2 separate regions of the Homo sapiens genome follow, and region 1 is linked to region 2. Evidence: fine-mapped QTL for protein levels in blood plasma. A gene starts in region 2. The other region holds a variant in brackets. All regions are shown on one strand. Distances are between the middles of the regions.

Region 1 (5,369 bases), 33 kb after region 2:
TCACTATCCACAACTGCTCCCAGGACCTGGATGAGGGCTACTACATCTGCCGAGCTGACAGCCCTGTAGGGGTGAGGGAGATGGAAATCTGGCTGAGTGTGAAAGGTGAGTGGTGGAACTGGGCCTGAAGGAGGGAGGGTTCAGAGCTTCAGAGCACCCAGCATCAGCATGAGGACAGCCTGGTGCCTCCCTACACATGGGTCACTGCCAACTGGGAGAAGGCATATCTGCTTGCTTATGACTTGACAAGGTGGCTGGAAGAAATTATCCAACCCTAAACTCACTAATATTTCCATAGGTAGCAAAAATTACATAATATCTATACACACCAACGAATAGATATCTAGTGTATGTCAGTTGTAAAGCATAACAGCAAAATGAACACCTAAGAAACTATCATCCCACTGAGGATACAGAATAGTACCAACATGCATTAGGTTACTTGTATGTCTCAGGGCCAGATTTGGAAACAACGATAGGGCTGGGCACAGTGGCTCACGCCTGTAATCCCAGCACTTTGGGAGGCCGAGGCGGGTGGATCACTTGAGGCCAGGAGTTTGAGACCAGCCTGGCTAGTATGGTGAAACCTCGTCTTTACTAAAAATACAAAATTACTTGGGAGGCTGAGATGGGCAGATCACCTGAGGTTGGGAGTTCGAGACCATTAGCTGAGCATGGTGGCAGGTGCCTGTAATCCCAGCTACTCGGAAGTCTGAGGCAGAATTGCTTGAATCTGGGAGGCGAAGGTTGCAGTGAGCCGAGATCACACCACTGCACTTCAGCTTGGGTGACAGAGCGAGAATCCACTTCAAAAAGAAGAAAATAGCAATAGAACTTTAAAAACAGGATGCCTGCTTAAATTTGAGTTTAGAAAAATAAATACTTTTAAGTATAAGTGTGTCCCAAATATTTCATGAGACATACTTACACTAAAAAAACTATTCATTGTTTATCTGAAATCCAAATTTCACTGGGCATACTGAATTTTACCTGGGAACCCTCCCTGTAGGCCTAGTCTCATCTTGGGCCTCTCTCGAAAGGTAACCATGGTCCTGAATTTTAAGTTTTACTATATATGTCTCTACTTATTTCTTTTTATTTTATTTTTTATACAGATGAGGTCGCACTGTGTTGACCAGGTTGGTCTTGAACTCCTGGCCTGAAGTGAGCCTCCCATCTCAGCCTCCCAAAGTGTTGAGATTGCAAGCATGAGCCACCACACCTGGCCTCTTTCTTCCCTTCCCTTCTCCCTTTTCCTTTCTCTTCTCCCTTTTCCCTTTCCTACCTTCCTTCTTTTCTTTCCCTCCCCTCCCCTCCTCTTTCTTTCTTTTTTTTTTTTGAGACGGAGTCTTGCTCTGTCACCCAGGCTGGAGTGCAGTGGTGCGATCTCGGCTCACTGCAAGCTCCACCTCCTGGGTTCATGCCATTCTCCTGCCTCAGCCTCCCAAGTAGCTGGGACTGCAGGCGCCCGCCGCTGTGCCCGGCTAATTTTTTGTATTTTTAGTAGAGATGGGGTTTCACTGTGTTAGCCAGGATGGTCTCGACCTCCTGACCTCGTGATCCGCCTGCCTCGGCCTCCCAAAGTGCTGGGATTACAGGCGTGAGCCACCGCGCCCGGCCCTCTTTCTTTCTTTGAGATGGAATTTCGCTCTTGTTGCCCAGGCTGGAGTGCAATGGCGCGATCTTGGCTCACCGCAACCCCCGCCTCCCGGGTTCAAGTGATTCTCCTGCCTCAGCCTCCCAAGTAGCTGGGATTACAGACATGCACCACCACACCTGGCTAATTTTGTATTTTTAGTAGAGACGGGGTTTTAACATGTTGGTCAGGCTGGTCTCGATCTCCCGACTTCAGGTGATCCGCCCTCCTCAGCCTCCCAAAGTGCTGGGATTACAGGCATGCGCCACTGCGCCCGGGCTCTAGTACCAATTCTTAAATAGTGCTTCCTTTGCTCAAGACCCTGTCATATATCAATTATACTTACGTGTGGACCCGTTCCTGGACTCTCTGTTCTGTTCCGTTGATCACTCTGTTTATCATGGCATTGATAACTCTCAACACTCTTACTTACCATGGCCTTAGAAATAGTCTCAGTGTTTGGTAGACAGAGAGATTTTAACTTTCCATTGTTTGTTCACATTCCCTGCTCCATCTGATCCCCACAAACTCTCTGAGGTTGGGTGATAAAATATTTATCTGGCATTACAGACAGGTCATAAGCCTTACCCAAGGTCAGGAATCAAGACAAGAACTGGATCCACGCAGAGAAAGGGAGGTGTTGTTCTAATTGCACACATATCTGATGGAAGAATCAATGGTGTGATTTGTCTTTACAGAACCTTTAAATATCGGGGGGATTGTGGGAACCATTGTGAGCCTCCTTCTGCTGGGACTGGCCATTATCTCAGGGCTTCTGTTG[C/T]ATTATAGCCCTGTGTTCTGCTGGAAAGGTAAGGACTCCCTGGGTCCTTTAGCTTCTCTTCCAGACTTTTGAAAAGGTGCGGGATGGGGAAGGATGGCCCCTGCCTTGCTCCCACCTGAAGTTCTGTTCTCTGGGCTTCTTTGCTGGGTCAAGATACACAGTAATAAGTCACCTAAGTACCATCCCGGGACACCCTATCACCTGTCATATTGAGTCAGTTTTCTTATTTGTTCCTCTAGTAAATGTTTGCCTGATTAAGAACCTGTCAGGTTGAAGTGGATGTTACTGGATATTAATGGTTTTTCCTTTCTCTCTTCAGTAGGAAACACTTCCAGGTGAGTGTTCCCTAGAATCAAACCAAACACCCATTCCCGCATCTGTCTTCACTTCTGTTTTGTTCCCTTCCTTTCACAAGAACAATAATAGCAACTACCATTGAGGACCTACGATGTGCTAGACACTGGCCTAGGGATTTCATCAGGTATTCTTATAAACCCTTTCATCATCTCCTCAGGGTGGTGGTGACATCTCCATTTTCCAGATAAGGGGATGGAGGCTCAGTGAAGTAATTTCTGCAAGCTCATTCCAGAAGAAAGCAGCAGTGCCTTCCTTCAGGTCCAGGTCTAATCAATTCCAAAGTCTGTGTTCTTTTACAGCGCCAAACCTCAGGGCTGGACACATTGCAGGTCTGTCATTGAGACAGAAAGACAATGTGTACATTTTGAGCCAGTCATTCATGCATTTGTTTTATTTAATTTTCTAAAAAGAGCTAAAAGAAAGAATCAGTCATAGTCTTAAGTTTTTTTTTCTTTTTCTTTTTTCTTTTTTTTTTTTTTTTTGAGACAGAATCTCTCTCTCTTGCTCAGGCTGGAGTGCAGTGGTGCAGTCTCAGCTCACTGCAATCCCTACCTCCCAGGTTGAGGCCATTCTCCTGCCTCAGCCTTCCGAGTAGTTGGGATTACAGGTGCGCACCATCAAGCCTGGCTAATTTTTGTATTTTTAGTAGAGACAGGGTTTCACCATGTTGCCCAGGCTAGTCTCAAACTCCTGGCCTCAAGTGGTCTGCCCGCCTCGGCCTCCCAAAGTGCCGGGATTACAGGCACGAGCCACTGCACCCAGCCAGTTTTACAGTGTTTTGGAAGACTACTATGAGCATGCCCAGAACCCCCTCCCAAAAGGAAACCCCAGTAGGGGCGAAGGAACCAAACGGAACTTGTGTATTTCATTTCCTAAGGAGATTCTGGGTGGGAGCAGAGTACTCTTCTCTATGATCCTATGGAAAAACAGTTCTTTACCTCTTCAAAATGACAGGATATTATTGACCTGGGACCATCTTTCGTAGCAAAACATTACCTTTACTGCCCTGTATTGGAGGGCCATTCTTAGTAAGTCTGTCATTCCCTGGGCTTATTTCTCACTGGAGGCATCAGTGTGGTGTAGTAGGAAAAGGCACTGAGACCATTGGACCTGGGTTCAAATGACAGCTGTGCCATTCCCAAGCCCTGTACCCATAGAAAATCCCTGACCCTTTCTGAGCCTTAGTCTCCTGATTTGTTTCACCAGGGGGTTTGTGAAGATTAAATGACAATGTAACACAGCTCCTCGGGCAGGTGACTGACCTGTGGCGTTCATTCTTCTTCCTTAAGAAATGCATAGTCCAGGCCGGGTGCAGTGGCTCACGCCTGTAATCCCAGCACTTTGGGAGGCCGAGGCGGGTGGATCACCTGAGGTCGGGAGTTCGAGACCAGCCTGACCAACATGCAGAAACCCCATCTCTACTAAAAATACAAAAAATTAGCCGCATGTAGTGGCGCATGCCTGTAATCCCAGCTGCTTGGGAGGTTGAAGCAGGAGAATTGCTTGAACCTGGGAGGCAGAGGTTGCGGTGAGCCATGATTGTGCCATTGCACTCCAGCCTGGGCAACAAGAATGAAACTCTGTCTCAAAAAAAAAAAAAAAAAGAAGAAGAAGAAGAAGAAGAAATGCACAGTCCAGGCCGGGCACAACAGTGGCTCATGCCTATAATCTCAGCACTCTGGGAGGCCAAGGTGGTTGGATCACTTGAGGCCAGGCATTCGAGACCAGCCTGGCCAACATGTTGAAACCATGTCTCTACTAAAAATACAAAAATTAGCCAGATGTGGTGGCGCATGCCTGTAGTCCCAGCTACTTGGGTGGCTGAGGCAGGAGAATTGCTTGCACCCAGGAGGTGGAGGTTGCAGTGAGCCAAGATTGCGCCACTGCACTCTAGCCTGGGCAACAGCGCAAGACTCTATCCCGAAAAAGAAAAAAAAAAGAAATGTATAGTCTGAAATGCAAAGTCTGGCTGGGTAGGCAAGCTAGTGAGCTGGTGATAAATAAACTATAGCATGGACTCTAAATGCAGTCATTAATTTAGGTCTTTAGCAGGAGGGAGAGGACTTTACCTGGGTCTTCCAAAATGAGGAAGGGGAGAGATTTTGGTAAGTAGAGCAGAATGAGGGCATTTCAGAAAAGGAAAAACATTTGTCTACCTGCTGTAAGGGGACATGAAATGGTAGATGCCTGGGACAATATGGTCACCTGCCCAAGGAGCAGGGGAGTAATAAACCAGCATGAGATACCATCATCTGAAGCAATTTGTGGCAGCATCTCTGCGGTTACCACACCATCACCTCATTACTTCACCAAGCTGTAATTTTCCATATTACTAATGGGGTTGCAAAGAATCTAGTGTTTCCTATTCAGTGAGGGCTGAAGTTGGGAAAAATAAGAAATCTTCTTGATTATTTTTCCCCTTTGGAAATTAGGGGACAAAACATGGATGATGTCATGGTTTTGGTGGATTCAGAAGAGGAAGAGGAGGAGGAGGAGGAGGAGGAGGAAGATGCTGCAGTAGGGGAACAGGAGGGAGCACGTGAGAGAGAGGAGTTGCCAAAAGAAATACCTAAGCAGGACCACATTCACAGAGTG
Region 2 (5,369 bases):
AACCTTGGACAATACCTGGCTTTCCTAGGCAGAGGTCCCTGCGGCCTTCCGCAGTGTTTGTGTCCCTGGGTACTTGAGATTAGGGAGTGGTGATGACTCTTAAGGAGCATGCTGCCTTCAAGCATCTGTTTAACAAAGCACATCTTGCACCGCCCTTAATCCATTTAACCCTGAGTTTGACACAGCACATGTTTCAGAGAGCACGGGGTTGGGGGTAAGGTCACAGAATCTCAAGGCAGAAGAATTTTTCTTAGTACATAACAAAATGGAGTCTCCCATGTCTACTTCTTTCTACACAGACACAGTAACAATCTGATCTCTCTTGCTTTTCCCCACACTAACACGGTGAAACCCCGTCTCCACTAAAAATACAAAAATTATCCGGGCGTGGTGGCAGGAGCCTGTAGTCCCAGCTACTTGGGAGGCTGAGGCAGGAGAATGGCATGAGCCTGGGAGGCGGAGCTTGCAGCGACAGAGCGAGACTCCGTCTCAAAAAACAAACAAACAAAATTCCTGTCAAGAATCTGATGAACAGTTATTTTATTTTATTTTTTATTTATTTATTTTTTTTGAGACGAAGTCTCGCTCTTCTCCCCAGGCTGGAGTGCAATGGCGCGATCTCGGCTCACTGCAACCTCCACCTCCTGGGTTCAAGCGATTCTCCTGCCTCAGCCTCCCAAGTAGCTGGGATTACAGGCGCCTGCCACCACACCGGGCTAATTTTTGTATTTTTAGTAGAGACGAAGTTTCACCATGTTGGCCAGGCTACTCTCGAACTCCTTACCTCAGGTGATCCACCTGCCTCGGCCTCCCAAAGTGCTGGGATTACAGGCATGAGCCAACGTGCCCGGCTGATGAACAGTTATTTAAAAATATTTGAGCAAAGAATAAAAAAGGGCTGAGCGCGGTGGCTCGCACCTGTAATCCCAACACTTTGGCAGGCCAAGGCGGGTGGATCACTTGAGGTCAGGAGTTCGAGACCAGCCTGGGTAACATGGAGAAACGCTGTCTTTACTAAAATTACAAAAATTAGCTGGGCGTGGTGCTGCACACCTGTAGTCCCAGCTACTCGGGAGGCTGAGGTGGGAGGATCACTTGAGCCTGGTAGTTTGAGGCTGCAGCGAGGTATGATTGTGCTACTGCACTCTAGCCTGGGCAACTGGAGTGACACCCTGTCTCAAAAAAATAAAAAACAGAAAAGTAAAAAAGGCAGAACTGTTCAGCTTCATTGCTCAGTTCACCAGGAGAAACATTTTTTTTTTAAAGTGGTTTCAAGAGGATTTCCTCATGGAAGAAGCATTTCAATAAGGGGACCGTTGAACAACAGAACTAATGATTTTTTTTTAACGTTAATATTTATTTTGAGATGGAGTCTCGCTCAGTCGCCCAGGCTGGAGTGCAATGGCGTGATATCGGCTCACTGCAACCTCCGCCTGCTGGGTTCAAGCGATTCTCCTGCCTCAGCCTACCCAGTAGCTGGGATTACAGGCGCCCGCCATCATGCCCGGCTAATTGTTGTATTTTTAGTAGAGACAGGGTTTCACCATGTTGGTCAGGCTGGTCTCGAACTCCTGACCTTGTGATCCGCCCACCTCGGCCTCCCAAAGTGCTGGGATTACAGGTGTGAGCCACCACGCCCTGCCATATTATTATTATTTGAAACAGGAAGTTTCTCCTAGGGCTGTTTTATGGATGGCTCTTCCTGAGGATATCAAAGCCGCATTTTCCCCAGGACAGAATGGGATGAGGGCATGGCAGGGAAGAGAGGAGCTTAGCCTGGGAATCTGACTGGGTAAGGGGTGGGAGAACTAAAAGGGGAAAAGCAAAAACAAAACTCTTGAGAAACACGTCCTGGGGACTCCTTGGCTCTCGCTGTCACTGTGTGGTCCCAGCCAGTTCACTGGAGAACCGGAGTCTCGTGGCTGCTTTGGCTGAAAGTCAGGGGATCATCTTTCTCTGGCTCCCTTTTGCAGAGGGTAAGGAAAGGAAGCGATGGCGGCCTTGGCGCCCGCCCTGCGCCCAGGGACACAGACCGGAATCCCTCGAGACGCTCAGCGGGGACTGCCAGGGGGGTCCTGCGTTCTGCAGCTTGGCAACCGCTTCCTCCGGGTTCTGCAGCCCGGGGCAGCGGCGGGGGTTGCGTCCTGCGGCAGCTGCAGGGCTCCGTCCCGCCCGCTGTCCCCGCGACTCGGTACTGCTGTCCCGGGCGGAGTGGACTGGGGAGGGCCCAGCCTCCGCGCCCCGCCCCTGGCCCGGCGGGACCCGGCTCGGCGCGCCCTCGGCAGAAAGCCCTCCTCCCGGGCCAAGGTAGAGGAAGTTGGGCTCCCGCCTGGCTGGGAGGCGGGAGGGATCCCGCTCCTGTTGTTTTCCGCCGGCAGGAGTAGGCTGGCGGGCGCAGGGGGCGGGGTGCGCCCTCCCTCCCCGGCCAGGGCGCTCGGGAGCGGGGACCCGAGCCTGCAGCCGAGCTCCGCTGCCGGCCCTGGACACTCGGCTCAGCCAAGCATCCTTCCTGGGGGCCGAGGAAGTGGGGCCACTCTGCCGTTCCGAGGACCTGGGAGGAGCCCTCGGTACCCCGGGCCCCGGGGCCCTGGGGCACACACGTCCAGCCCAGCCCGAGCCTGCGTTTCCTGAGCCGGGATCTGGGGCGAGATGGCCGCAGGCGGCAGTGCGCCCGAGCCCCGCGTCCTCGTCTGCCTCGGGGCGCTCCTGGCCGGCTGGGTCGCCGTAGGTAAGGGGCCGCGATCTGGAGGGAAAAGTTGAGTTTTCCCAGTCAGCGGTGGGGAGGGGACAGCGAGAGACCCAATTCCCTCCGACTCCGCCCGGATCCGTGGTGGCCCCAGCCTAGAAGCTGCCCCAGGAGGGTCTTGGTTTCCTGCTCGCAGCTCGGCCGTCTTTGCAGGAAGGAGTTTTCCCGGGCGCCCGGTGCGGGGCGAGATACCCCCAGCCTCCTGGGGTGGGCAGCCGGTGAGGCTGCAGAGGAGCCGAGCCGAGCCGACGTGCGGGGGCAAAGTAAAGAGGCACGTGTGCCGGGAAAGTGATTTTTTTTTTTAAGCGTCGGATGTAAATTCGCGTTCTGGTTTTAGTAGTAACTGATACGCTGGTGCTCAAACTCGAGACTCCCACTTTATTTTTCTCCTCCCTCTGCCCAAGGTTGAACTCGCCTTACACCTGTAACCGGTGGACTTCCCTACACACCTTTGCAAGTCTTCCTGTGCCGACCAGCGCCTTCAAAGCGGGGTCTTCCGCCTTTACTTTTGGAAAAGCTTTTTATTTTGAAATACTTGGCTGACTTACAAAAGACTTCCCCTCACACTTGACATGATTGACAAAAGGTCTGAAATGCTTCATCTATGGTCTGCTTTGCTACGAAAAAAGAATTGGAGGGGTGCTTACAAAAATATGTAGAATGTAAAAAGATTGAACTATTTATATATATTTGAATTTAATTCACCAGCATGCCTACTGTGCATGCCTACTGTGTGCTGGGAGTGTGACAAGCTGGGAGGAGGCTGGGGTGCAGGGAGAGGAGATGGAGCCAGGAGGTGGTGAAGTTTGCCAGGATGCAGGCAGAGCGCTACTTTTTGTGTTCCCGGGTCTGCTCCACCCAACGGGTCTCCTCTTGCACGTTTCTGGAGATGGGTTGTAAAGTATGCTGGAGCTTCTTAGCAGCAAGTGCCAAGAGTTCCTAATTATTAGGCTCATACAATTTTATTTTGCTTTTTTTTTTTTAACCAACCATTTAAAAACAATAACATCTCTAGATTTCCAGTTTATCTGGAAAAATCTGAAGGTCTGGCAACACGGGGCCTGCTTTCCCAGTTGGAATTGGGCAGTGGTCATCCTCTTATCTAGGGCATATGAGCCCAAATTTGTTCCACCTCTCCCTGTTGTAATATTTGCCCCGCCACCTTCAGTCATGGGTGTTACCTGCTGGCCCTGCAGGCATTTGGCTGAGTAATCACTGTGCTGGGGTGTGGGTGATGGGGGAGGACAGTTCCTAGTTGGTCATCTCTGGACGTGAAAGGTGGTTGTCAAGTATTCCCATCTCCCCAGCTGTTTGCAGTGTTTCCTGCACGATGAACACCAGGAACCTGGGAAGTGAGAAGAACCCTGGGATGAAGTCATCCTGCTGGAATGACCTGGCTTTCAGGCTGACTGCCACCCGCCCCATGGGGAACCTATCTCCACTGCTATGGCCAGCTATTTTTTTCGAGCCAGGCTCTCGCTCTGTTGCCCAGGCTGGAGTGCAGTGGTGCAATCACTGCACTGATCCTCCCACCTCAGCCTACAAGTAGCTGGGACTACAGGCGTGCACCACCACGCCTAGCTAATTTCTAAAATTTTTTTGTAGAGACGGTCTCTACAATCGCTTGAGCCCAGGCTGGTCTTAAACTCCTGGACCCAAGCGATCCTCCTGTCTCGGCCTCCCAAAGTGTTGGGATTATGGGTGTGAGCCACCGTGTTGGGCCTTTGCCCAGCTATTTTGATGCCCAGACCTGCTTCACCTTTGTGTATGATGCCAGGGGGCTTCCTGAGCTTGGTGTATTTTTGTTGTGTGTTTGTTTTTTAAGTTGGGAGTTTTTGGGGAAAAAAATTTTTCTCCTGACATTCAATGCCAGACAACTTATATGCATCCACTAGCTACCCCGGATTGTAAATCCTAGGTTATTCTTGGGAAAAGTTGCTTTAAAAAAATAAATAAATGTTTGGGTATAACTCCTACTCTGTAAATAATAATACATGGGCAGCATCAGGGAGTTTATATTACTCCCTCTTCGGTTCTCTATTGTACATTTAAGGTTGGGGGGCAAGAAGGACCCTCTGGACACCATATGAATGACTTCTAAACTTGTTACTATATTTTATCATTGCATCCTGTCTGGTGCAGGAGACCAGAGTAACGTGACCTGAGTGACAATCCCACATCTCCCAGTGATTTGCTTGGGACTTTAAGTGATAACTTAATCTTCCTAAATCTCAATTTTCTCAGTAGTAAAGTGAGGAGGTTTAGGACTGCCAGGCAAGAACTACCCCTTCCATGTCTATGTCAGACATCACTAAATCGATGACTGTGTTCTTTTCCACTGAACCAGGACTCAATCTCATCTTCAACCCAGCCCACAGGGCAGCCACATCTCTGGACTAGATGATCTCCAAGGGCACCTTCAGATACAGTGGTTTAAAAAAGAACGGAGTAAGCCAAACCAGGAGAAGTGAAATGTCTTCAAATGGTTTCTTTTGTGATCATGTCATTCTATGCCTTGGAGGAGAAAACAATGTTAGCTCAAGTTCCAAGACTAAAGTTTCACCACGGCTTTTTTCCAAGCCACTGTTCCTTTATTTCTTTGCCAAGGAGTTAGGCAAGGGGC

Alleles and levels. Alleles are on the strand shown, and positions count from the first base shown. The strength of an association depends on the size of the effect and on how common the allele is.
In carriers of allele T in region 1, the plasma level of the protein whose gene starts at base 2,310 in region 2 tends to be higher than with C alone (strong association).

Evidence for each region. PIP is the chance, under the fine-mapping model, that this variant and not a neighbour inherited with it causes the effect. The UK Biobank Pharma Proteomics Project read protein levels with antibody pairs (Olink). The fine-mapping took linkage between variants from a reference panel, not from the people measured, so its PIPs are less certain.
Region 1: its variant is fine-mapped to the plasma level of the VSIG10 protein (UK Biobank, PIP above 0.99). The variant lies in the coding sequence of VSIG10. If it changes the protein, the assay may bind it differently, which can mimic a change of level.

Annotation. Positions count from the first base shown.
Region 1 is chr12:118,068,435-118,073,803 of GRCh38, reverse strand. VSIG10 (V-set and immunoglobulin domain containing 10) reads left to right here. Exons shown (of 9, transcript NM_019086.6): 5 at 1-105; 6 at 2,335-2,445; 7 at 2,737-2,752; 8 at 5,207-5,369. The region is part of intron 1 of LOC124903030 (a long non-coding RNA gene); the gene reads right to left. Among named protein-coding and RNA genes, the nearest start is that of WSB2, 9.9 kb to the right of the region's middle. The variant C/T (reference allele first, on the strand shown) is at 2,418.
Region 2 is chr12:118,100,952-118,106,320 of GRCh38, reverse strand. It overlaps VSIG10 (V-set and immunoglobulin domain containing 10), which reads left to right and starts at 2,310. Exons shown (of 9, transcript NM_019086.6): 1 at 2,310-2,728. The coding sequence starts at 2,650. LOC124903029 (a long non-coding RNA gene) reads left to right here and starts at 2,739. Exons shown (of 2, transcript XR_007063478.1): 1 at 2,739-3,332; 2 at 4,054-4,716. RefSeq lists an enhancer at 1-575 and a silencer at 2,217-2,466.